Homo sapiens: one gene and its partners. The protein of the gene in region 1 interacts with the protein of each later gene in a biochemical or structural test. Each region holds a gene or a part of one and is shown on either strand. Other genes may lie near its edges. The genes, in order: USP5, USP28, UBTD2 and RFFL.

The links.
Region 2: of the proteins of USP5 (region 1) and USP28, one has a biochemical effect on the other in vitro, tested with the Homo sapiens proteins (one large-scale study listed by BioGRID).
Region 3: the proteins of USP5 (region 1) and UBTD2 are reported together in a solved structure, tested with the Homo sapiens proteins (one study listed by BioGRID).
Region 4: of the proteins of USP5 (region 1) and RFFL, one has a biochemical effect on the other in vitro, tested with the Homo sapiens proteins (one large-scale study listed by BioGRID).

The regions. Positions count from the first base shown.
Region 1 is NC_000012.12:6,857,541-6,863,188, reverse strand, and holds part of USP5 (ubiquitin carboxyl-terminal hydrolase 5), read right to left. Parts: intron 5,561-5,648; coding exon 5,466-5,560; intron 4,766-5,465; coding exon 4,572-4,765; intron 3,720-4,571; coding exon 3,648-3,719; intron 3,039-3,647; coding exon 2,951-3,038; intron 2,824-2,950; coding exon 2,698-2,823; intron 2,237-2,697; coding exon 2,083-2,236; intron 1,747-2,082; coding exon 1,572-1,746; intron 720-1,571; coding exon 631-719; intron 45-630; exon of another isoform or gene 4-44; coding exon 1-3. UniProt on the Homo sapiens protein: Deubiquitinating enzyme that participates in a wide range of cellular processes by specifically cleaving isopeptide bonds between ubiquitin and substrate proteins or ubiquitin itself.
Region 2 is NC_000011.10:113,812,421-113,818,068, forward strand, and holds part of USP28 (ubiquitin carboxyl-terminal hydrolase 28), read right to left. Parts: intron 5,418-5,648; coding exon 5,238-5,417; intron 2,963-5,237; coding exon 2,754-2,962; intron 1,536-2,753; coding exon 1,465-1,535; coding exon of another isoform or gene 1,456-1,464; exon of another isoform or gene 1,335-1,455; intron 85-1,334; coding exon 1-84. UniProt on the Homo sapiens protein: Deubiquitinase involved in DNA damage response checkpoint and MYC proto-oncogene stability. Involved in DNA damage induced apoptosis by specifically deubiquitinating proteins of the DNA damage pathway such as CLSPN.
Region 3 is NC_000005.10:172,231,133-172,236,780, reverse strand, and holds part of UBTD2 (ubiquitin domain-containing protein 2), read left to right. Parts: intron 1-2,422; coding exon 2,423-2,659; intron 2,660-5,648.
Region 4 is NC_000017.11:35,010,722-35,016,369, forward strand, and holds part of RFFL (E3 ubiquitin-protein ligase rififylin), read right to left. Parts: intron 4,043-5,648; coding exon 4,019-4,042; intron 1,429-4,018; coding exon 1,247-1,428; 3' UTR 1-1,246.

The DNA of each region.
Region 1 (5,648 bases):
CATCTGTGGGAAAAGGGTCACCTCAGCAGCTCCCGGAGGCCTACCTGGAAAGTGATTCGGGAACCTCAATCCCCTGCCCCCTATGTCAGAACTGCTCTGTAAAGAGGAGCTGCTAAAAGCACGGCACCCATCTTAGGGGTCCCAGTATAAGACAAATAATACTAAGCCTGGGAGTTGGGAGGCCAGGATGCTGGTCCTAGATCTACCATAAATAATCTATGGACAGGGCAGGGGGCCTAGAACTTGTGAGACAGAATGATTTTATATTCCTGTGAGTCTCAACTTCCTTATCTAGAAAATGAAGGTACATCACGAGTTCTCAAATGACAGTCAGGGACCTGTAAGACTCACGAGAATTAATTGTTTCAAGATTATCAAAATGAAAACATTTTACCAATTATTTTAAAAAACTACAAAAATCACTTTTGGTTGTAAATCATACCTATAACAATCAAAGAAGTCTTTTAATATTTTTAGTTAGTGCTTTCAAACTAGATAAATTTTGAAACATTGAAGGTGATTTTTTTTCCTCTTTCAGAGGAAACTTTGAGAAACACTAGTTTATATGTGTTAAAGCCCCTTCTTTTTCTAGCATTTTCTGTGTAACCTCCCTCATTCCAGCAGCCATACCCAGTTTCTTGGGCACCCAGTCTAAGCCGAAGGTGAACTTCTTGATCTGGATGACCAGGTAGTCAGGGAATGAGGCAAATCGTGTGGTCCTAGGGAAGAGAGACTGTGCTGGTACCCAGACAATCCCCAGGGTTTTCCTCTCCTGAAACTCCCACCTGGGGTTCAGCCCCTCATGGGTAGAAGTCCCAATAACCCAGAAGATCCTCCATATTCTTCTCTTCCCCTGGGCAGGTGTCTGATGCCTGTCCTCGGCCAACGAGGAGCAGTAGAGGCCAGAAGGAAGGCTGTCAACAAAAAAAAGAAAAAGAAAAAAGCCCAGGCATGGTGGCTCATATCTGTAATTCCAGCACTTTGGGAGGCCAAGGCAGGACGACTGCTTGAGCCCAGGAGTTAAGAGACCAACCTGGGCAACATAGCAAGACCCACACGTAGGGAAAAAAACATAGCAAGACCCACACATAGAAAAAAAAAAAAAACCCACACAGAGAGGAAGAGCTGTTTCACTGGCAGGAGCAGCAAAGGGCTGGGTAGCTGACTCCCCGAGACCAAAGCCCTTTTTCAGGTCTCACACCCATGCCAGGTGCCAATGGCTAGGCTCAAAGTGTGGCTATTTGCTGGAAATCCAAATTCTGCCCACAGCTGATCCTAAGTGCCTGTGCTCAGCCATGACTGAGGGGCAATGAAGAGAGGCTACACTACAAAGAGACCCTGTGCCACAGAAGAGGGAGTGGTTGGGGCAGGACAAGGTGACAGATAGAGTCAGTACCCGTGTCCCCCCTACCAGGGCCCCTTGGTTCCATCAGGGCCAGATTACCAGCCCAACTGATTCAACCCTGAGGTTCCAACCACAAAGGGATGAAAGAACAGGGAAGAGACAGAAGTATCCTCTGGGATAGCTCTGCCATAGACCCACAGCCTCAGGCCCCGACCAGAGGACTTACTTGACAGCTACTGACTTGGCCTGCAGGGCCGTGCTCCAGAAGTCATCGACCTGCTCAGGGGCCCCGTAGGCCTCCAGGCAAGAGCTGAAGGGCACCTGGGCCCGAACCAGTTCTGGCAGTGCCATCTTCTCCTCTTCGGCTTGCCGCTTCTTCTCCTCGTACTCCAGAAGCTCCTCTGGTGACAGAATGGGTTGGTGGATCCTTCGGAGGGTGCTGCTTCTTTGCCTCCTTAGCCTCTCCCTACTGGCTCTGTGTCCGTATTTCAGTTCCTCTACCCTTCCAAAGCACCCCTGACACATGTCCAATATATCTCGCCTGTTTCCATGCAGCTCTGCTAACAAGCTGAGTGTCCACTGGACGAGGTTAATCTACCTACTCCTGGTGGCCCAGACTGGAACCTTGGCTGGTGAAGCAGGGCATTCCCTGGGCTGTGCTCCCATGAGGTGCCCAAGCATTCCTCCTAGACCTTAGCCTCCCACCGTGCCACGGCCTTGCTGATGGAGCAGCCTACCTTTGTTAAGGGCTGCATCCATGGGCACAGGCAGCTGCATGATGTAGTCAACTCGCTGGGTGTACTTCACCTTCTCTGTGGCCAGGCACTTGATCTTTTCCTCCACCAAGAAGCGGAACACTTCATTAGGATTTTCAGAGCTCCGGCAATTCCTCTATGGGAAAGAGGCAGGGTAGGGAGGTCTGGGCAGCCAGGGAACAGAATGGGGCCTGAAAGGTTCATGGGAGAGTCAGGGAGAGAAGGCAGACTACCACTCGGAACTCAGGGACACAAGAGCAGAGCAGAAACCTTCCCTAATTCACCAACCCCTCCCCATTTCTGGCCCCATCCCTGCACTGAGGGACTGTGTTAGAACACGCTTGTATTTTTCTTTATAAGCAGCAAGTATTCTCTTATCATTGTCTTTGGGCATAATCTGAATTGGGCTTCAAGCCCATCAAGGGTAGGGATCATCACCTTCACTGTCCTCCTCAGGTGCAAGCACTGTTCACAGGGACACAGACTGTTGGGGTTCAGGGATGGGACTGGGTTGGGGCTGATAGAGGGAGAAATGGGCAGGAAGGAGAGCGAGTAAATTGCAGGAAGATGGGGGTGTGCCATCTTGCCAGCCCTTACCTCCACCATGTTGATAAGGTGAAGGAAGAACTCCTGGGCATCCTGCTGCCGGTTGGTGGAGAATTCAGGGTGGCCCTTGCCGATGAGGGCCTTGAACATCCGAGGGGCAATGCCATCTTGAACTTCCTGGGAAGAGTCAGGGCAGGGACTCAGCTGGGGCTCAGTGGCCATCCAGGGGCCTTCTTTAGACATCTCCCAGACCTCAGCTTCCCCACAATCCCAGGGCCTGAAAGGGACAGGGTCCTAGACGCACCTTCTGTTCTGGCACCCGCTCCCCATCGCCCGACTCCGGTACTGGCTTGGAATACTCCCCGGAGAGAAGGCCATGGCCCAGCTTGGCCCTGCATTAATATCCAAGAAAACATTTCACTTCAGTCAACTAACGACCCTGTGTGTCCCCAGCTCAACCCCCTGCTCGTGGCTCTCCCTAGCTAACTCTCAACAACGTGAAAAACCTTAGATTCTACAGGAACCCAGCTCAAGACAGACAACACGTCCAGAAGACAGTCACCCGAATGCTCCTAATAGGCCAGTGGTGGCCGTGCACGGTGGCTCACGCCTGTAATCCCAGCACTTTGGGAGGCCGAGGTGGGCAGACCACGAGGTCAGGAGATCGAGACCATCCTGGCCAACATGATGAAACCCCGTCTCTACTAAAAATACAAAAAAAATTTAGCTGGGCGTGGTGGCATGTGCCTGTAGTCCTAGCTACTCAGGAGACTGAGGCAGGAGAATCACTTGAACCCAGGAGGCAGAGGTTGTAGTGAGCCGAGATCGCGCCACTGCACTCCAGCCTGGCAACAGAACAAGACTCCGTCTCAAAAAACAAAACAAAACAAAACAAAAAAAGGCCAGGGGTTAAAGTGCTGTGCCCCCCAGGCGGTCAGGGAGGAGGAAGGTATACGGCCATGACTGTCAACAGCTTTCCTACATAGGACCTGGTTACATACACCTGGGTGCTGAAATCCTGGGTAGGGTCCGTCGGGGCATTCTGGAAGATCTTCTCCAGCTTATCCACATACCTAAAAGTCAAGGGAAGGACAGTTGGAGGGGCTCTGGCCTGAGCGCCGAGGAAAAGGGAAGGAAGCAAACATTTACTAACTCTGTGAACGGGCTCCCCTCAAGAGTGGGGAGTTGCTGTGGGTGAACCTTGGAGTCGCTTCTCTCCAGCAACCTGCCTGTTCTCCCCTTCTCAGCTATGTCCAATGTGCAAGCACGCTCGGCGGCAGAGGAGCCGGGGAGGGGGAAGGTAGCCTGGGATTAGGATAAGTGCAGTTCACGTTCTATTGGACAGAACCTGTTGACATGTTCTGAGCATTCACATTCTAATTGTTCCCCAAATTCGAAAGTAAACTCATTTCTGCTGAGAACCTGCCTTTATTCTTAGTGTGCCAAGCCCCCCTCCTCCCCAAGTGCTACATGTCCATGTTAGGTGCTCATCTGATGTCACTGCCCTAAAATAAAGACCACCTGCTAACCCTTGAGTCTGTCAGAAGGCCACAGAGCCCTGGGACTTGGCACTCTGCACTATCAGTGGGGTTTGTGTGTTGGGGTGCTGGTGGTGCAGCTCCCTAACTTGCTCCCCTCACAGCATGTCAGCCAGAGTGTGACAGGAATTATTCTTTTTTTTTTTTAAGAGAAGACAGGGTCTCGCTATGTTGCCCAGGCTGGTCTCAACCTCCTGGGCTCAAGCAATTCTCCCATCTTGGCCTCCCGAAGTACTGGGATTACGGGTGTGGGCCAACACACCCAGCCGATAGGAACTACTCTAAGACTAGAATCAAACACAGAGGTGCTGAGGGAAGCTGAAGGAGGAGTATGCCCAGAGGGTGCTGACCAGGAGGGGGCCTGGGGAAGGAGAGGGCACTACTCACTTCCTCTGGAAGTCAGGGATGCTGAAGAGCACCTGGACCACAGAGTTGAGGTAGCAGCTGTTACCCAGGTTCCGGATGCCTGTGTAGCCAGGCCCAAACAGGGGCTTGAGTGGCACACCTGACTCCTGGATCAGCTCCCATTCACCAATCCGCTGGTTCATGTCTATCTCCAACTCAGTCATCGTCTTGTCTGTCTGTGTGAGAAGGGGCACTTCAGACTGAGTGAGAAACTCAACCCTGTAGTTTTTACCTCGATCTCTCACTGAGTCTAGGATGATACTCAACTGTGGCCTAGAATTTGTGGAATTACAGGCTCAAACATGGGAGGTATGTTGAGTATCGTCCAGTTCAAGTTCTGGAAGGCCACACATAATTGTCCCAGAGGCCCGTTAGTCATCAGGGCCTCTGCTTGAATGAGGAATAAAATTTCCTTCTACCTGAAATGTTTTTCCCATCCTTAAGTTACCCCTAACCTCCTTCACATTGTCAGTTAAGCATCGCTTCCTCAGGGAAATGTCCCTGATCCCTAAACTAGGCCAGGCCACCCTGCTGTCAATTACTGTAGTACCCTCCGCCTCTCTTTCACAGTGCCCACCAGTTTGCAACTATTCACTTATTTATCTGGGAATGTGACTAATGTCTGCCTTTTCTTCTAGAGTAGAACTCTTGTAAGCAAAAACCACATCTGTCTTATTCACACAGCCTCTAGCACATAGTAGGTACTCAGTACTATTCACTGAATAAATGATTTTAGATATTTAAAAGAAGCCTGTGTATCTTGGGGATGGGGTTAACTAGAAGATTTCTCCAAAACCCTACCTCAGCCTCAGGCAAAGAGGAAGGGCCCTCACAGGGGCAGGAAGTAGAAGAATCTGAAGTTGAAGGGGGTCTCACCTTCTGCATCTTCAGCATGTCGATGCCGAAGTGGGACAGGTGCTCAGCCAGGCTGGGGTCCAGGACCATGTCATCCTCATCATATGAGTACACGTCTAGAGCAGGAGGCAGGAAGAGAATCAGGGGAAGTGGCTCAGGACTAGCCAGGCCACCATCCCATCCCTTGCACAGAAGGGACTTGAG
Region 2 (5,648 bases), on another chromosome or scaffold:
GGGTTGATTATAGATATAGGCCCAATAGTGTCCAGCATTTGCTTGTCCTTCATGAACAAGAACTGCATGCAAGCGATAAGGCACCTGTAAGTCAGAATGTACATTCCCCAGTCAGGTGAAGCAAAGTAATCTGATAAAGTTTAGGTTATTAAGAAATTACTGTTTATGATGTGATTAATGTGGGGTTCATATTAAAACATCTTGTTGATTCAAGATGAAGTCCACAAAAACACAGCCTTGGAATTGATCAATTATGTCTCAGTTCCAAAACCTTGAAAACCAGATCGCTGAACTACATGACCTCTCTGAAGACTCTTTCAACTCTAAACTCCTCAGATCTAAAACCAAACATAACCTAAACATATGCATCCTTCTAATTCAAAACTCTGTTTATCTAAAAATAGAATCACCTTGACCACTCATGCTGAAAATGCTTAGCATATTTGGGACCTACAAAGGTTAGCAGCTATTTTGTTCCATGCCTATTTTATTTGGCAACAAAATTTAAGTTAACATATTTAATTCAGCCACATGCTTCTTAGAGTTAAGTGACCACTTATCTATCTGGAGTGAAGACCCTTTTAATGACATACTTGTTTGTTACAACATTTGAAAAGCACATTTGTGTATTTTCAATATAGAGAAAATAGAGCAATGCTTAAATGCTAACTAAATACTAGTAAAAGAGATGAAAGTCAGTCACAGAATCAAATTAAATTTACACTTACTTTGACCTATTTTAATTACTGGTGAAGATTTTTGAATTAACACAAAAGAAAAAATGGGGAAGCCTGCGTTTTACATGGTGCATTCCTGTTAAGCAATGGGACTGTGCCTCAATGCCATTCTAGAAACAGGGCTCCCCTCCTCCAAGCCATTCTGCCCATTCCAGTCATTCATACAGAAGCCACTGAAAGTCCATGCCCCTAACCAGAATAGGTTCAGAGACACTCCTGGAGGCTCTTTACCCCTCCATTCCCAGAATTTATTCTAACAAACACTTCTGTGGATAGTTAAGAATTTCTGTCCTAACTCTCTTTTGGAATTTATTATTACAGAAATAAAGCTTGAACGCATGTTGTTAAATTAAAGATCTTGAAGAATCATGGAACTTTGGGAAAGAAAGGATAACTGTTCTCTAGTTCAGTTTTTCCCACTGCACTACTTAAAGTACCATTTTGTAAGTAATTTTTATTAGTATCTGACAGCAAACCTTTCTACAATATGAAAAAATTCCATGTGGCAGAATTCAAACAAGTATGTGTTAGGTCCTGTTTTTGGTAAAAGGTATATTGCTTTCTTTAGCCTAAAATAAAGAAACAGAACAACATCAATTTATATCTTAAGTTTATTCTTTTATCTTAGGGGGATTCCCATTGGGTTTAAAAGAAAACTATCAAATTTGATTTTTGTATCTACCATTAGCACATGCCTTGACTACTTTCCCATCAATTTTCATTCTACCTGACGAAGGAGAGGATCGCAGTACATCTGTTCAATAGTCTGAGTAGTACTTGCAATACAAGTCTTTAAATCTGTTTGGAAAAAGAAAAACAAAAGCTTCACTAAAATGATCTCATTCTATGTCACACAGGCTACTTTAACTAAGCAAAGAATATTGCTAGGGTCCTAATGATTTCAGCTTCCCTCTATGAACCACGAAGCAATATACAGTTTTAAAGCAGCTAGTACTTTAGGTTATGAAAGCTTTTAGTTCAATATAATTACATTAAGGTTTTAAAACATTATTTTTTATAATTGCCAAAATTTCTTAAAGAGTAAGCTGTTTAGGAAAAGATCTTAATGGGTCACTTGGCTGTAAAATGTATGCCTCAGACAGGATCTGAAATGAGAAAGCAGAACAAAGGGTAAGGCTAAATTTCTCTGAATAGGAATCTGGGAAGAATCTGTATTTTCCATCATCTTTTTGTTCCCTAGACAAAAGGAGACAGGAAGGGGGGTAAGGTTAGTCTGAGCAATATGGGCAATGAGGTCAAAGGGCTTTTTAAGAATACAATGCTGAATAATCCAATTTTACATTGTGCATACTGCTCAAATACCTCATTAACCTTCAGTAAAGCATGCTTCCTATAGAAAAGACTGAAGAGTAGAAGTCCAGAAAAGCTAAATGCTAAATCTGGGTCAACTTAAGCTGGAGTTCAGATAATCTACCACAGAAACAGAAATCAGTTGATGCAGAAAAATCTCAGCAAAGGTGATCATTTCCCAGAAATTTTGAGGGGGAGATCTTTCCATATCTGTATAATGGGGGTGTGTGAGCCAAGTTTACAGGGCACTAAAAGTGCAAAAGAAGTCACAATTACCATGTCAAAATTCAAAAGCATGGGCCAGACGTAGTGGCTCACACCTATAATCCCAGCACTTTGGGAGGCCAAGGCAGGCAGATCAGTTTTGGTCAGGAGTTTAAGACCAGCCTGACCAACATGGTGAAACCCCATCTCTACTAAAAAAAAAAAAAAAATCAGCCAGGTGTGGTGGTACATGCCTATAATCCCAGCTACTTGGGAGGCTGAGCCATGAAAATCGCCTGAACCCGGAAGGCGGAGGTTTCAGTGAGCTGAGATTGCACCACTGCACTCCAGCCTGGGTGATAGAGTGAGACTCCATCTCGGCGGGGGGGAAATTCTGTAGCATGTACAGTAATGTCAGGAAGTGTACCGAGGTGCTTAACCTCCAAATAGTCAAAAAACAGAAAAAGCAAAGAGTAACTGACAAATTTTAAAAGAGCCAACCTTGTATATCTTGTTCAATCTCACTCCTCCATCTCTGAAGACAGGTCTTAACAAAATTTATCTCCTCATCTGTGACTGTTCGTGGAGCTGGCTGTGAAGGCATTTCCATGGAAGACCGAGAAGATGTCAGTGGTTTAGACTTGGGTAAAGAATCTTCAGGAGAAGAAAAGGTACTTTCAACATCCTGAGAAGAGCTTTCTGTACTTGTACTGAGGAAGACAAAAATCATGCTCATATGATAATTTCCAAAAGATACCTTGGCCTAAATTATGTACTTTGGAAAGCAAGATGCTATATGAAAAAGTACAGGTATTCAGTGAGCATTAACTCTATAAAGGTACAGAGCCAACCTTTTTCTCTATCATCTCACGTACCACAACTGGCCTGTGAGGTAGATACTTTTCTATCCCTATTTTACCAACTGTGAGCCTAAGGTTTAAATAAATTAAGCAACATGCCCAAGTTCACCAAGCTGGAAGGTAATGAAAATGAATCCAAAGCCAGATCGGCCAGTCTTTAGCTCATGTTCTCTGATCACTGATTATTCCTTCCCATGAGGATGGGAAGAGAAGGAAAATGGAAAAGAGAAGACTAGGCCTGGAAGAATCAAGGAATCAACTACAGAGTTTACAAGATGAAGCCAACTAAAGTGACACTATCCTTCCTGGAACAAAATACACAGAAGGAAGAAAAAGGAAGCATCAGCTGAACATACAACTCACAGGAATACACACTAGGTGACACCTTGGAGAGTTCTGAGAGAAGGGCTTCAAGTCAAACAATCCTAGCTCTACTACTTTAGCTAAATACCCAAGGAAAAAAGTATTAATATCTCATCTACAAAATATAAATCTTAAGTTCTTTACGTCTTTTCTGTAAACTAACAGAGAATAAAGCATATCAAGTAAATGTTAATTTCTCTATTGTCAGAGTAAAACTGCAGGTCAACAAACCAGCAGGAATATAAAATAAGCTTCTAATTGTAGTTAGGTTTCTCTTTTACACCAAAGCTGAAGAATATAAACTTCCTTTACTTTGACTTAAAAAAAAACTCTCACTCCTGCCGGGTACGGTGGCTCACGCCTGTAATCCCAGCACTTTGGGAGGCTAAGGAGGGCAAATTACCAGGTCAAGAGATCGAGACCACCCTGGCCAACATGGTGAAACCCCATCTCTACTAAAAATACAAAACTCAGCTGGGCATGGTGGCACGCCTGTAGTCCCAGCTACTTGGGAGGCTGAGGCAGGAGAATCGCTTGAACCCAGAAGGCGGAGGTTGCAGTGAGCTGAGATCATGCCACTGTACTCCAGCCTGGCGACAGAGTGAGACTCCATCTCAAAAAAACAAACAAACAAACAAACAAAAAAACCTCACTCCCTCCTCCTCACTCTCTCACATGCACAAAATAATGGAGGAAATCTCTTTTCCCTAAGGTCCATACTTATGGAAAAATAAGCCCAACAAGGGAACAGATATCTCAATTTCAGAGGAGATTACACACATACACCTCCCTGTAATTTTTAAATCTAATACCAAGCACTATTATTTTATTTGATTAAATAGCCTGCCGAACCACTTTTTAAAAATTAAAACTTTACATTTCATAATATACATAAAAAGATTCTATTTTTACAAAAATTAAAAAATTTAAGTAGAATATAAAAAGTGAAAGAGCAGCCCCACTCCTATCCCCAGACTCATGTCACTCCTTAGAGATAATCATTCTTGACATTTGGTATGTTCTATCCAAATAAGCATTTCTATGCATACATGGATGAATAAATATTAATACGTGGGGCGGTGGCGGGGGATGTGTTGGGGAGAATAGTTAAGATTTTTTGACAAAAAAGTCTAACTTTTTATTGAGTATTAGTGTTTTTATTAGCCAGGTAACACATATCAAATGTCCTAGCTACCTTTCATGGCTCCTCTAGGCAATAAAGATTGTTGCACATGACTGGATGGAATAAAATCAGAGGGCTCCTGTGACTTTGCCTCCCTCTGCCTTTACTAGAGAAGCCCCTCTAAGCTGTCCTCTTATTTCTAGCCAGTTCTTTTTCAAGTACTAATTTTCTATTCAAGAATAAGTCTCTCTTTCCTTGATGTTTCTTAGTCATGCATACTTCAAGTGTGTGAGCATGAGATGTTTTGGAAGAGCAGGGCTTGAGGTTTCCTCTGAGAAAGGCCTTTAATGGCAGCTGGCTTGTAGTTCAAAACAAGGCATCACTGGGTGGAGCCTGAACACTATCCTGAACAGTTTGAGAAGCCTCTGAAATAACCCAACCATTCTACGGATAAGACAAATGCACTGGTGGGCCCACTCCCACCCAAGTGACAGTCAGCAAAACCCTTCCCTTTAAGACAAAGAGCTCACAGCTCCTGTGCTCTTATAGGTGACTGTCAATCAAGTACAAAGATGGTGCATAGTTTAAATTATACCAGAAAAACAATACATACCATTAAAAAAAAAATGTTTTCATTACCTTTCCTTGGATGTCTGGTCAGAAACCGAGCAGTGCACTGAAGAAAGTGGTAATGTCATATGTGTGTCACTTTCAGGTGGACAGCTTTCTGAGGCAGGTTTTGTACTAGCAAATTCAATAACATATTTCAGCATGTCCGGGAGCGGGAACCGAGCTGGGCCTGAGCCATATTTCACATACCTAAGCGACAAAGACAGTGGTACTCTACTGCCCAAGGCTGTTTTGTATTTTAAGAGTCGCTGACAAAAGATCTGTTTATCACAGCAAGTCAATGGAAAGGCTTATTCCTAGAGGCTATACAATATTTAATAGGGTCCTCAAACAATCTATAGGGTAAAAATTCTCTAACTACAAAACTAAAAATTGCCAACAATCTGAAGTTTTATATCTGGCAGGAAACATTTCAAATAG
Region 3 (5,648 bases), on another chromosome or scaffold:
GGAAAAATTATACTGAGTTATCTCTCATGCATTTAATACATATGAGGCCAGATAATTCTGTAGAAATACTCAGACCCAAAACTTTATTCAGATAAATATCTTACTGAGTCTACCTGCTTACTGTGCCATCTTCCACTTCCTGGTCAGTAAGCTGAGTGTTGTCTGTAAACTGTCTCTAACTCATCTAAATGATAATGTAGCAGAAAATAAAATCAACCTTGCATTCCATCGTGTTGGTGCAATCAGTGGGTTGTGGTTATCAGACCAGATTCTGAACATCTTCTAGAGAATTATGCTCTAGCTGCATTGTCTGTATTATTTGGAAGAGGTAGGGAAAAATCATTAGTATAGACTGTGTTTCTCGCATTTGAATTAAATGTAATAGGCACATCTGTAGTGTTACTCCCAGTAGACACTCAGTACATATTTGTTGATTAAATAAAGAGACTTGGATTCTGTTTCCAGCTCTGCTACTAAATGGATGGGTTTCCTATTCTGCTTCCTCACCCTTTCAGAACTCACCTGTTTTGCATTTCACTAGGACAAGTTAGAGGGCAAAAAGTATTTGAGTTAATGCTGAGTGTTTTAAGTGGAAAACAGCTAGTCTTTTGGTGTGCCACCCTGAGGGGAGAGGACAGAAGAGACCTGACCTGGCAGTCTTTATTGAGAATATAGCCTGGAGAGTAGAGATAGCCCAGGGTCTGGAGTCATTTTATTTTCTGTTTTGCATAGTCCAAATTTCATCTGGCCCTGGGCCAATGAGGGAGTAGTCAATTTCATGGATGCTTTAGAACCAGTTTGAGAGTGATTTCTTTAAAATTGGTATTCTTTCTGCAATTAAATATAGAACATTGAATTTTGACACACACCCTCTCTCCTTCCCACTCGCTGTGTCATTTATTTCCCACCCACTCTTTTCCAACACTCTTCTTATCTTTTCATCCAGCTTCAATTTTCTTTCTATCTTCTATCCCATCTATCAAACTATTCCCTATCTATAGCACTGTATAATCTTACAGAGCCATAAATAAGAATGGCTCTGTAGGTCAGTATGACCCATGGAAATAGATCACAGATAATACACCAGATGGTTATCTGGGTGCAAGGATGCTGCATCAGGCTTATTCCAGCGCTACTACTACATAACATTGTCTAAGGGGAGATGCTGCCACTTGCCCTCTGTTTTCTTCTTCTCTTGGGTTGAAACTAGGGTAGGGTATCATAGTTCTTCTGCTCCTTGTGGTTCGGAGCTAATCCCTTGGCCTAGCATCAAAGATTATCTCTTTTACTCCCAGTTCCTCAAAAAAACTAAAGTACTGATTCTACCCTTTGTAAATTAGTTCCTGTTTGAGTTCCAGAGAAAGGTATTTACAGTTCCTTGACTAAAGTCCAGAGAGTAGAATGCTAGAGGAAGCATTCCTCTAATCAGTTTGTTCATGATTCTGGTGGTTTGGCTCTTCTTTCTCTGGGCACTGAAAAGCAATCTTTTACCTCTTTGGATTTTCTCAGTTCCTACTTCCTGGTTTCATGTGTCCAAGCTACTATTGCCGTTTGCTTCCCCAAGTATCTTGCCTCTCTTTCGTGGTGTCTCTTGACTCTCATATCCTGCTCTTACAGTCTGATGAAACACTTACCTTCTAGGCAGTTCTTTTAAAATGAACAAAACAAAACTTTCATTGTATTAAAAAAAAATTTTTTTAGAGCAGTTTTAGATTCATAACAGAATTGAGAGGAAGGTACAGAGATTTCCTATGTACTCCCAGTGCCTACACATACATAGCCTCCTTTCCCTGATTATCAGCATCCTCCACCAGAGTGGTACATTCATTACAACTATAATTCTCTGGGGTTCTTTAGTTTTGTTTTGTTTTGTTTGAGATGAGGTTTCACTCTCGCCCAGGCTGAAGTGCAGTGGCATGATCATGGCTCACTGCAAACACAACCTCCCAGGCTCAAGTGATCCTCCCACCTCAGCCTCCCAAGTAGCTGGGACCACAGGCACATGCCAACATGCCAGGCTAATTTTTGTGTATTTTGTAGAGATGGGGGTCTCACCATGTTGCCCAGGCTAGTCTCGAACTCCTGGATTCAAGCCTTCCTTCCACCTCAGCCTCCCAAAGTGCTGGGATTACAGGTGTTGAGCTACTGCACTCAGCCTGTAATTCTTTTTAATGATCCTGTGGAGGGTGTACTGAGTGGAAAAGAGCTACCAATTTGTTTTGCATAGAGCAGTCTAATGTCTCTATTCACTTTTGTAGTTCCAAAATGTGTTAGAGGAATTTCAGGATGCACAAATTAGCTAGCAGGTAAATTTCTGGCTGTGATTTTGATGAAATAATCCAAGAGAGGAATGACCAGATAACTTTTGATACATATTTTATAAATTTTGGGTTTGATCTCAGTCTTTTATTTTTCTTTTCAGTTGCTCTAGGTCGTAACCAGCCTTTGAAAAAGGAGAAACCAAAATGGAAAAGCGATTATCCTATGACAGATGGACAACTACGCAGCAAGAGGGATGAATTTTGGGATACAGCACCAGCTTTTGAAGGCCGGAAAGAGATTTGGGATGCCTTGAAGGCTGCTGCACATGCTTTTGAGAGCAATGATCATGAACTGGCACAAGCAATCATTGATGGTGCAAACATAACATTACCACATGGTAGGTTTGGTGTTCCTCAAGGACAGAGGAAACATAATCAACTTTGTTTCTGATAGCAAGAAACCAAATGGGAGAGTGTTTTTCCTTGCTATGAATTATTCTAACTTTTTTTTTTAATGTAGCAAGGAATAGCATTCCTCTTTTTTTCTTGTACATCTTTCAGCTGGAGACAGGTTTTACTTTGTGTGTTTGTGTATACGTATATATTTTTTAAATATATCTTAATTTCAGAAAAGAACTCTTGATCATCTAAAAAGTTTCCGTGTAACCTAGTCCTCCATGAAGACCTCTTCCCTCCACCCTCCCACCCCCACCTCACCAGCCTCATCACCCTGCCAATCTATTGGAGCTTCCACTTCACTGGTTTCCTCCTAGCAGCGCTAGAGATAGAGTCTCAGTTTAGATTTTGTAAGCTGTAGAGACTCAGAGGATGCTCCTTTTAGTCATTATACTTTCTCATCAAGCCTATTTTTGGCATAATAAGCAAACCCAAACTTAGAAGAGAGTCCCGCATGTTTTTAAGGACAGTTTTCCATGATTGTAGCCCTGAGCATTCTTAGGAACTTCTCTCTTTTGCGTAGGAATGTGACTCTTTTAAGGATAACTGTAAGCTTTGAATGTTTCTGGGGATACACATATGCTGGTCCATGTACATACTCTTGTTTGGTCTCCTTGATGAGAAACATAGAATTTTTCATGCTACATTGAGATTTAGGTGTTAATTTTGTATTTACATTTTTTATTTCTGTATTAATATTCTCAGTATTCTCTTTAGTTTTTCAACTTAATATTTTTCAAGGTTGTCTTTTCAGATTTATGTAATAACCACCTTGCATTGATTCTATTCATTATTGTACCTTCATTGTTTTAATCCCTAGTACGTCCCTTTATCTACATTCTTAGAGGAACAGGGACTTTCATTGTTGAACCATCTGCTTTATGTCCTTTCACTGTATGTCACATGAAAGATTTTTATTTTATTCTATTCTTTCTCTCTCTCTTTTTTGAGACAGAGTCTTGCTCTGTCGCCCAGCAGGCTGGAGTGCAGTGGTGCACTCAGCTCACTGCAACCTCCGCCTCCTAGGTTCAAGTGATTCTCGTGCCTCAGCTTCCCCACCATGCCTGGCTAATTTTTGTATTTTTAGTAGAGACAGGGTTTCACCATGTTGGCTAGGCTGGTCTCAGCTCCTGACCTCAGGTGATCCGCCCGCCTCAGCCTCCCAAAGTCCCTTTTTTTAAGAGACAGGTCTCACTCTGTCATCCAGGCCAGAATGTGGTGGCACGATGACAGCTCATTGCAGCCTCGACCTCCCAGGCTCAAGAGATCCTCCCACCTCAGCTTCTCAAGTACCTGGTACTACAGGCACGCATCACCATGCCTGGCTACTTTTTTTTTGTTTTTTTGTTTTGTTTTGTTTTGTTTTTGGAGAGGCATGGTCTCACTATGTTGCCCAGATGATCTCGAACTCCTGGGTTCAAGCAATCCTCCTGCCTTGGCCTCCCAAAGTGCTGAGGTTATAAGCATGAGCTGCTGTGCCTGTCCAAAAGATACTTAACTTACTATATCCTTGCCAGATTCCAAATCACCATTAGTTTTCTGATTAATTGTGCTTCCAAGAAACATTCCTTTTTTTTATAGCTGCCTGTTCTTTATTATGAAAGTTTATTAGCATAGTCTTCTGTTACTAATGTTATTGAGCACCCACTGATCACTTTTTCTATACATGTATAAAAGTGATCCCTCCTACATTTGAAGAATTTATAATAGAATGCCATTTTCAGTGTGACTTTTTTTTTTTTTTTTTATGACAGTGAGTCTTTTTCTTTTGGTAACTTATTTTATTTTTTTGAGACAGGGTCTCACTCTGTTGCCCAGGCTGGAGTGCAGTGGCATGATCTTGGCTTACTGTAACCTCCACCTCCCAGGTTCAAGCAATTTTCATGCCTCAGCCTCCCAAGTAGCTGGGATTACAGGCATGTGCCACCAGGCCCAGCTAATTTTTGTATTTTTTTGGTAGAGACAGGGTTTCGCCATGTTGGCCAAGCTGGTCTCGAACTCCTGGCCTCAAGCTATCTGCCTGCCTTGGCCTTCTAAAGTGCTGGGATTACAGGCGTGAACCACTGCACCTGGCCTCAGTATGACTCTTTAGTCTCAGTTTTCATGGATAGTCTCTAAATTCTTTACTTTTATGTGATTGTGGGTTGGGAGGTGGTGGGCATCATCTTAGTCCATTTACCTTTTTCAGTTTTGTAATTATCGTCTTCACATACCACCTTTATATAATATAACGGGAAGGAGTCTTCCTTTACAGATAGTTTTATCATCCTTCTCTTTTTGATGTCCATATCCTCTGTTTTTCAAGGAAAATATATGTTTTATAGACCTGTATGTGGGTGGAAGAAGAGTCATGTATGTGTGATTGTGTGAGATCCAGAATGTTGGAACTTTGAATTTCTTATTTTGTACTTATAATTACCTACTGGAATACCTGGTTGCATTCTGTATATTGTAGCCTTGTTTAAAACTTCATGGAGCCAAAATAATTCTGTTGCATGTAAGGCTGGGCCTCATGCATATCCTACTGGATGTGGGCTCAGATCACTAAAGACCGAAGTCCCTCATTTCTGCTTCTCTGTGGAAAATGTTCCCGGCAGCCCTGCCTACCAGCAGATCAGGGAGAATTACTCTCAGAAATTCAAGAATTATTAGATGACCCTCTATTTGCCTTCTATGTTTAAGGAATATTTTCTCCTTAAGCATGGAATAATCAAGCCAATATCTGAGCCTTTCTCTTTCAAAACTCTGTGATAACATTCTGGGTGTTAATATTGTCACTGATGCCCTTGATTGACTTCTTTTGTTCATATCTGAATCTTGTCAATATTTCTTGGACCTTATAATTTTGTTTTGTCATGTACTCTAACTCACCATCAGTTTATAACTAGGCTATTGTATGCTTTTACCTAGACTGGCTTAGTGGTATTGCCG
Region 4 (5,648 bases), on another chromosome or scaffold:
AGCCTGGGCAACAGAGTGAGACTCAAAAAAAAAAAAAAAATGCTTTCTCCCTGACCTGCCCCCAAAAATCAGTGGGCTAGGAAAGGGAATGAAAGTAGGGTCTCCTCACTCCCCACCAACCTGGGAAATAAAGACTTGAACTGTCGGCTTACAACAGAATCCAGTCTCATTCAGTACCTCCTGAAAGCTCTTAAGTGCTCTGTCTTAACATTTGCTCTCCAGGAACTTCAACAGCAGTCTGGCCAGAGAAGAGCACAGGCTCTTTGCCTAAATCTATTTCTTCAATGAAACCAAATTTAAAACTACCATGGATAAGGGAGGGATTTCATTTTCAGCGAAAAGTGGCTTAAGACTTCTAGTTGGGAAAAGGATCAGAAGCCAAGCCAAAATTAAGGAGAAGGCCACTGCCTCCACCCATTGCTTCCCCTTTCCGCATAAACTAAGGATGGTGCAAATCAGGTCCCAAGAGAAGCAGCAGCAGGGATTATGCACGCACTATCCCTTGCAGACAGAAACAAATTTCCCAGCAGTTTGGGAGCCTGATGTTTTGTTGGCTCCCAGAGTCAGGTCAGGAGACCAACAGCTTCCAATCCCAGCATTTAATGAAGTGGCTTTTAACAACTTTGAAATTTTTCTATAGCATTTGTATTTCATTTCTCACCAAAGATAAGTTTACTGGTCTAAAATCTGTCCTAAGGACCACTATCGGTCTGGTAAACTAACATTTTTGGTCCAAAGAAACAAATGGATTTAGGCAATGTAGCAAGAGACTTTAGCAAAGATAGTTAAAGCACAGAAAGCCGGAGAGACCAGAAATTTAAATCCGAATGTGCTGGGGAGGAGGACTTCTGATTGATGAAACACATGGGCAAGCATCTCCCATATGGGGTGGGGATGGGTTGGGTACAGGAGGAGGGGTGAAACTGTCTAGGTTCAGGGAGGAAGACAGGACCCAAGTTCTGGAAAGTTCTCTGTTCATCAGTTACCATCATCACTCCAAGATCACTGAACCAAGAACATACCCATGTGATTTATACAAGTTCCCACTGGCCTTGGGCTTTGCCAGCCAAGAGGTACACCCCTGGGAAGACAGGCATGCTCAGGGGTGACATGGCATCTTGCTTGACCTGGTTTTGGGAACCCTGCAATATTTCTACTAGCTTGCTCCTCTGCAAGCTGGCCAACCCTGAGCCCAGACACCCCAGGCTATTTCCCTGTAAGGCACTGAAGAAACCGATGCAAGCTCTCAGGACCGGAAGACATGCACAGCTCGGATTACATACTGCCGGCAGATGGGACATTCATTCATGCGCTTGCCACACTTGGTACAGGTTACCATGTGGCCACACTCCAGAAGAACACAGTCAATGGGTGAGTCCATGCAGATCTTACACAGGTTCTCCTCCAAGCCTGATGGTACTGCTCCCCCTGTACAAACACACAGGGCAGAAAAAAAGGGGCAGAGGAGTGAGGAGAATGTCTTAAGTGTATAGGGGTGACTGGGGGAGGGAGGTGGGAGATAACAGGTACATTGTAAACAAAGTCTCAGTGCACATGCTTCCCTCAAATAGAGCTCCTCCGAGGAAACATTTCCTCAATAACCAACTCTGGTTACTTGTTTAATCCACACTTCATCCCCTCCAACAGGTAAAGATTTGAAAAGTACACAGCACTTGTGGATCAGACACATCCCAGAACATGAGAACTAAGGCAAAGTTCTCAAAGCTTAAAAGAAATAATTTTCAGACTGTTGGGGCTGTAATATAGTGAGTGTGTGAGTGGCACGTAGGGACTCATTATCCCCTGAGGCAGAACAGGCTAAAAAGATAAAACTGGTTCAGAAAAGTTTAGATAGAAATGGAACTGTGATGAATGGTTCATTAAGGATCACAAGGCTTTATCTATAAACATATCCTCCATTTAATAAAGTCAGGGATCATGGGGGACCCCTCTGCTATCTCACAAACTACTCCCAGGTTTCCTGAGGAAACTTCCTGGTGGAGAAACTTGGCAGAGATTACTGCTCCCTCTTTCTACCCCCACAAAACTTTTTTATACCCCCATGACTGCTTATCACATTGGATTAAAATTTTGAGTTTGCCTACTTACTCCCAGAGTAGACTATGAGCTCTTTAATTCAACATATTCAATCAATTTTTACAATTATATGCTTAGCATTTATTCCATGCTCCAAGGTTAGATATTCATCTTTGAAGCCCCCAATGCCAGTTATATGGTAGGTACTCTAAATGTCTGATGAATGAACATCTTCCCAAGGGAATGACAACATCCCACATTTACTGAATGCTTACCGTGTGCCAGGCAGGGTCCTGAAAGCTTTGCATGTGTTAACTCACTGAAGCCTCACAAAAACTATAAAGTAGGACCTCTTGTTATTTTCATTTTATAGATGAGGCCAACTGGGGCAAAAAAGTTAAGTGGCTTGCCCAAGGGCACAAAGCTGCTAAGTCGAGGAGCCAGGATTCAAACCCAGGCAGGCTGGCCCCACAGCTCCTGCTCTAGAATGGCCTTCTGCCTAACTGCCCTAAGAGTAGAAACTATCCAGACAGTATCAACTGCTGAGTGCACAGGGTTCTCAATAAATGCTAACTGGCTTGTGTCACTAGCAGAATATAGTGGGCATGACCAGTATCCTAGTAGAGCTGACCCAAACAGAAAAAATAATGTTCAAAAGCCCAGCCATCTCCAATATGTCTTAAATTGTAGCCTGAAGTAGGTACCCATAAAAAGGAACTGATCTCACAGAAGTCACCTCTACCATCTGGGGGTTGGCCAACCCATAGAGGAATTCTCCCTTATTGCATCTATACTTTCTCTTTTCTGGACTATTAAAAAGTCAAGAAATACTTCCCCCTAGGAGGTAGGCTGGGTGTGAAAGGGAGTGAAACCCATTTGCCTCTTTTGAGGTGCTGTTGGTCCTAACAGAGGTTTGGAGACTATACAAATACCTAAGATGAATGGGAATAATTTATAATTTTCAGTTACTCATTCTCTCAGAAGTAACAACAAACACATTAACTCAGTTGTCAGCATTCTCCCAGGGAATCAGAAAAAGAAAGGAAGCACCAAGTAGATCAGCCTGATCTTGGTACCGGTGATGCTGGGGGGTTGGAGGGTGGAGGTGGGTCTAGAACTCCAAATGGTTTTGGGGAATTGAGAAAAGCTCAACTGTTTTTTATGTCTGATTAGAAGTAATCAGACATAAAATTGCCCATTCTGAGCAAAAGGCCATTTTACTAAATAAATTTGGGAAATCTTCTGAAATAAGTTTTAAAATGCTGCAGGCTAGTCCAACACTACTCTTAGAACGTTCTCTCTTGGAAGGGAGTTCACAACCATATACCCTTGAGGCTTTTGAAAACACATAGCATATTTTAGAATGTCCCCACAGATGGTCAGGAGTTCTGCAGTGTGTTCTGGGAGTACCTGAGGGCCCAGTGGTGGTCTTTAAGTGAGTGGCAGCTGAGCTGAGATATATAGCTTGTGCCCAGAGAGTAGCACATGTGTTAGCTCCAGAGTAGCTCTAACCATTACCAGCCCTGTACAAACAGGGCTGTCTCAGGTCACCACCCTTTCTTTTTGGTTAGTACCAGAAGCTGCTAAACACCCTGATTCCCCAGAAGGTGTACACAGAGACCCTCCCTACCCAGACCAGAACTGAAAACACCAAGATTTTAAAAAATGAGCTGAGTGTGATACATGCCACCCCTCCTCTGTTTCAGTGTTTTACAAATGTTGGCTTATGAGCTCAGGTAGCCCAGGGACATGCACATCAGTCAGTCCGCCCCTACGTATGCTCCACTCTGCTTCCTGCACAGCGAGCAGAGAGAATTTCTAAAGATGGTGAGAGGCCCCCTGGGTCTCAGTGAGTTTCCCACACACCCTCTCTCTGGGGGCTCAAATGCTCAGAATTCTTAGATTACTAAAGGGATTGGGGTTGAAGGAGGGGAAGGACAAAAGGGCCTAAGCCCATTCCCAAACAGAAACAACTACATACCGTTTTGGTCTTCGGCACCACTGACTGAAAAGGAAAGAGAAGGATGTCTGAATAGGTAAGGCATGATGGTACAAATACAGTCTCTTACTGCCCTGACATCATTTCTGAACTCTTACCACTCCCTGCTGGGAACCAGGCTTGCCAAGAGCCTAGATGGACATCTGCCCTCTACTCGCTCTACATGCTCAGAACTCACACAAAGCTCCTACTCGTGCATCTGGTCTACTTTTATTTTTTATTTTTTTGAGATGGAGCCTCACTCTCTTGCCCAGGCTGGAGTGCAGTGGCATGATCTTGGCTCACTGCAACCTCTTTCTCATGGGTTCAAGCGATTCTCCTGCCTCGGCCTCCTGAGTACCTGGGGACTACAGGCACATGCCACCACTCCCGGCTAATTTTTTGTTTTTGGTGGAGATGGTGTTTCACCATGTTGCCTATGCTGGTCTTGAACTCCTGATCTCAAGTGATCCACCTGCCTCAGCCTCCCAGAGTGCTGGGATTACAGGCATAAGCCAACACACCCAGCCTGGTCTACTCTTAGGAAAAGGTATTCCACCAGTTTGCACAAACTGCCAAGTAGAAGGATACTGTATATGTGCAATATCCTTTTCTATTTTGAAGTCAGCATTAAAGTCAAGAAAGAATGAACTATCTAGCTGTTTCAGTCAGTCAGAGAATCTGGATAAAGTTCCCACGTGGAGTCATCTGTTCTGTTCCCCAGGTCCTGACGACTGGAGAGAAGACTCTTGAAACAATCCCAAAGGGAAAACAGACTCCATGTCAGTAGGCCTCAGTCTGTAATCGGGTGAAGAGTCAGTCAGATGACCCCTAACACTGATGAATTTGAGCTACTGGTAGAAGAGAGCCTGAAACCTGACTTCAACCACTCTTACCAAGCAAGGAATCAGTATGTTGCTCTGTAGGAACCAAATCAACTGGGGATGGGAGGAAAGGAGAAGATTCTGTGGTGAAATAATTTCAGGAAATGCTAAGTTCAAAACAGCCAAAACACATTTCTCTTCTGCAGGACTTCTCTGCCTTTAATATAAAAATCTACCATAAATCAGTAATGAAGATATGAGGTATTTTTCCCTAAACTCATTTAACCACAGACCCAGATATTTTCCTGGGCATCTCCTGAATGATACAGTGTAAAATGCTCTGGGAAATGAACAAAAGGAAGAGCCCAAGTGCAGATGGAACAGCTATCTTCTCCTGCCATGTATGTAGATTCACTTTCTACCTCCCAAATCTTCAGAACAAGCATTCTTATTCTAAGGTAAGAAAACTTACAAGGTGGTGGTGAGTAGGGAGGGGATAGCATATGGTGAGAAAGGCTATGGACTTAGACCATAAAATTTTCAGTTAAATTTTACCTTTCAGATAAAGGGGTGATGCTAATAATGTCTATTTCATAGGTTGCTCTAAGGAATAAATACATACATGCAATGCCTAATCTAGTTTTGACACTCAACCACAAATGACAGCTATTATTAGACGGTGCAAATATGTAAGGTGTCTCCTTCCATGGCTTAAGTGTGGAAATTGAGTCAGGTCAATACCATCATGCTTTGGAGTGACAGCAAACACTCCTGAGCTCTGTAAAGCTACCATGCAGATAGCCCCTCAC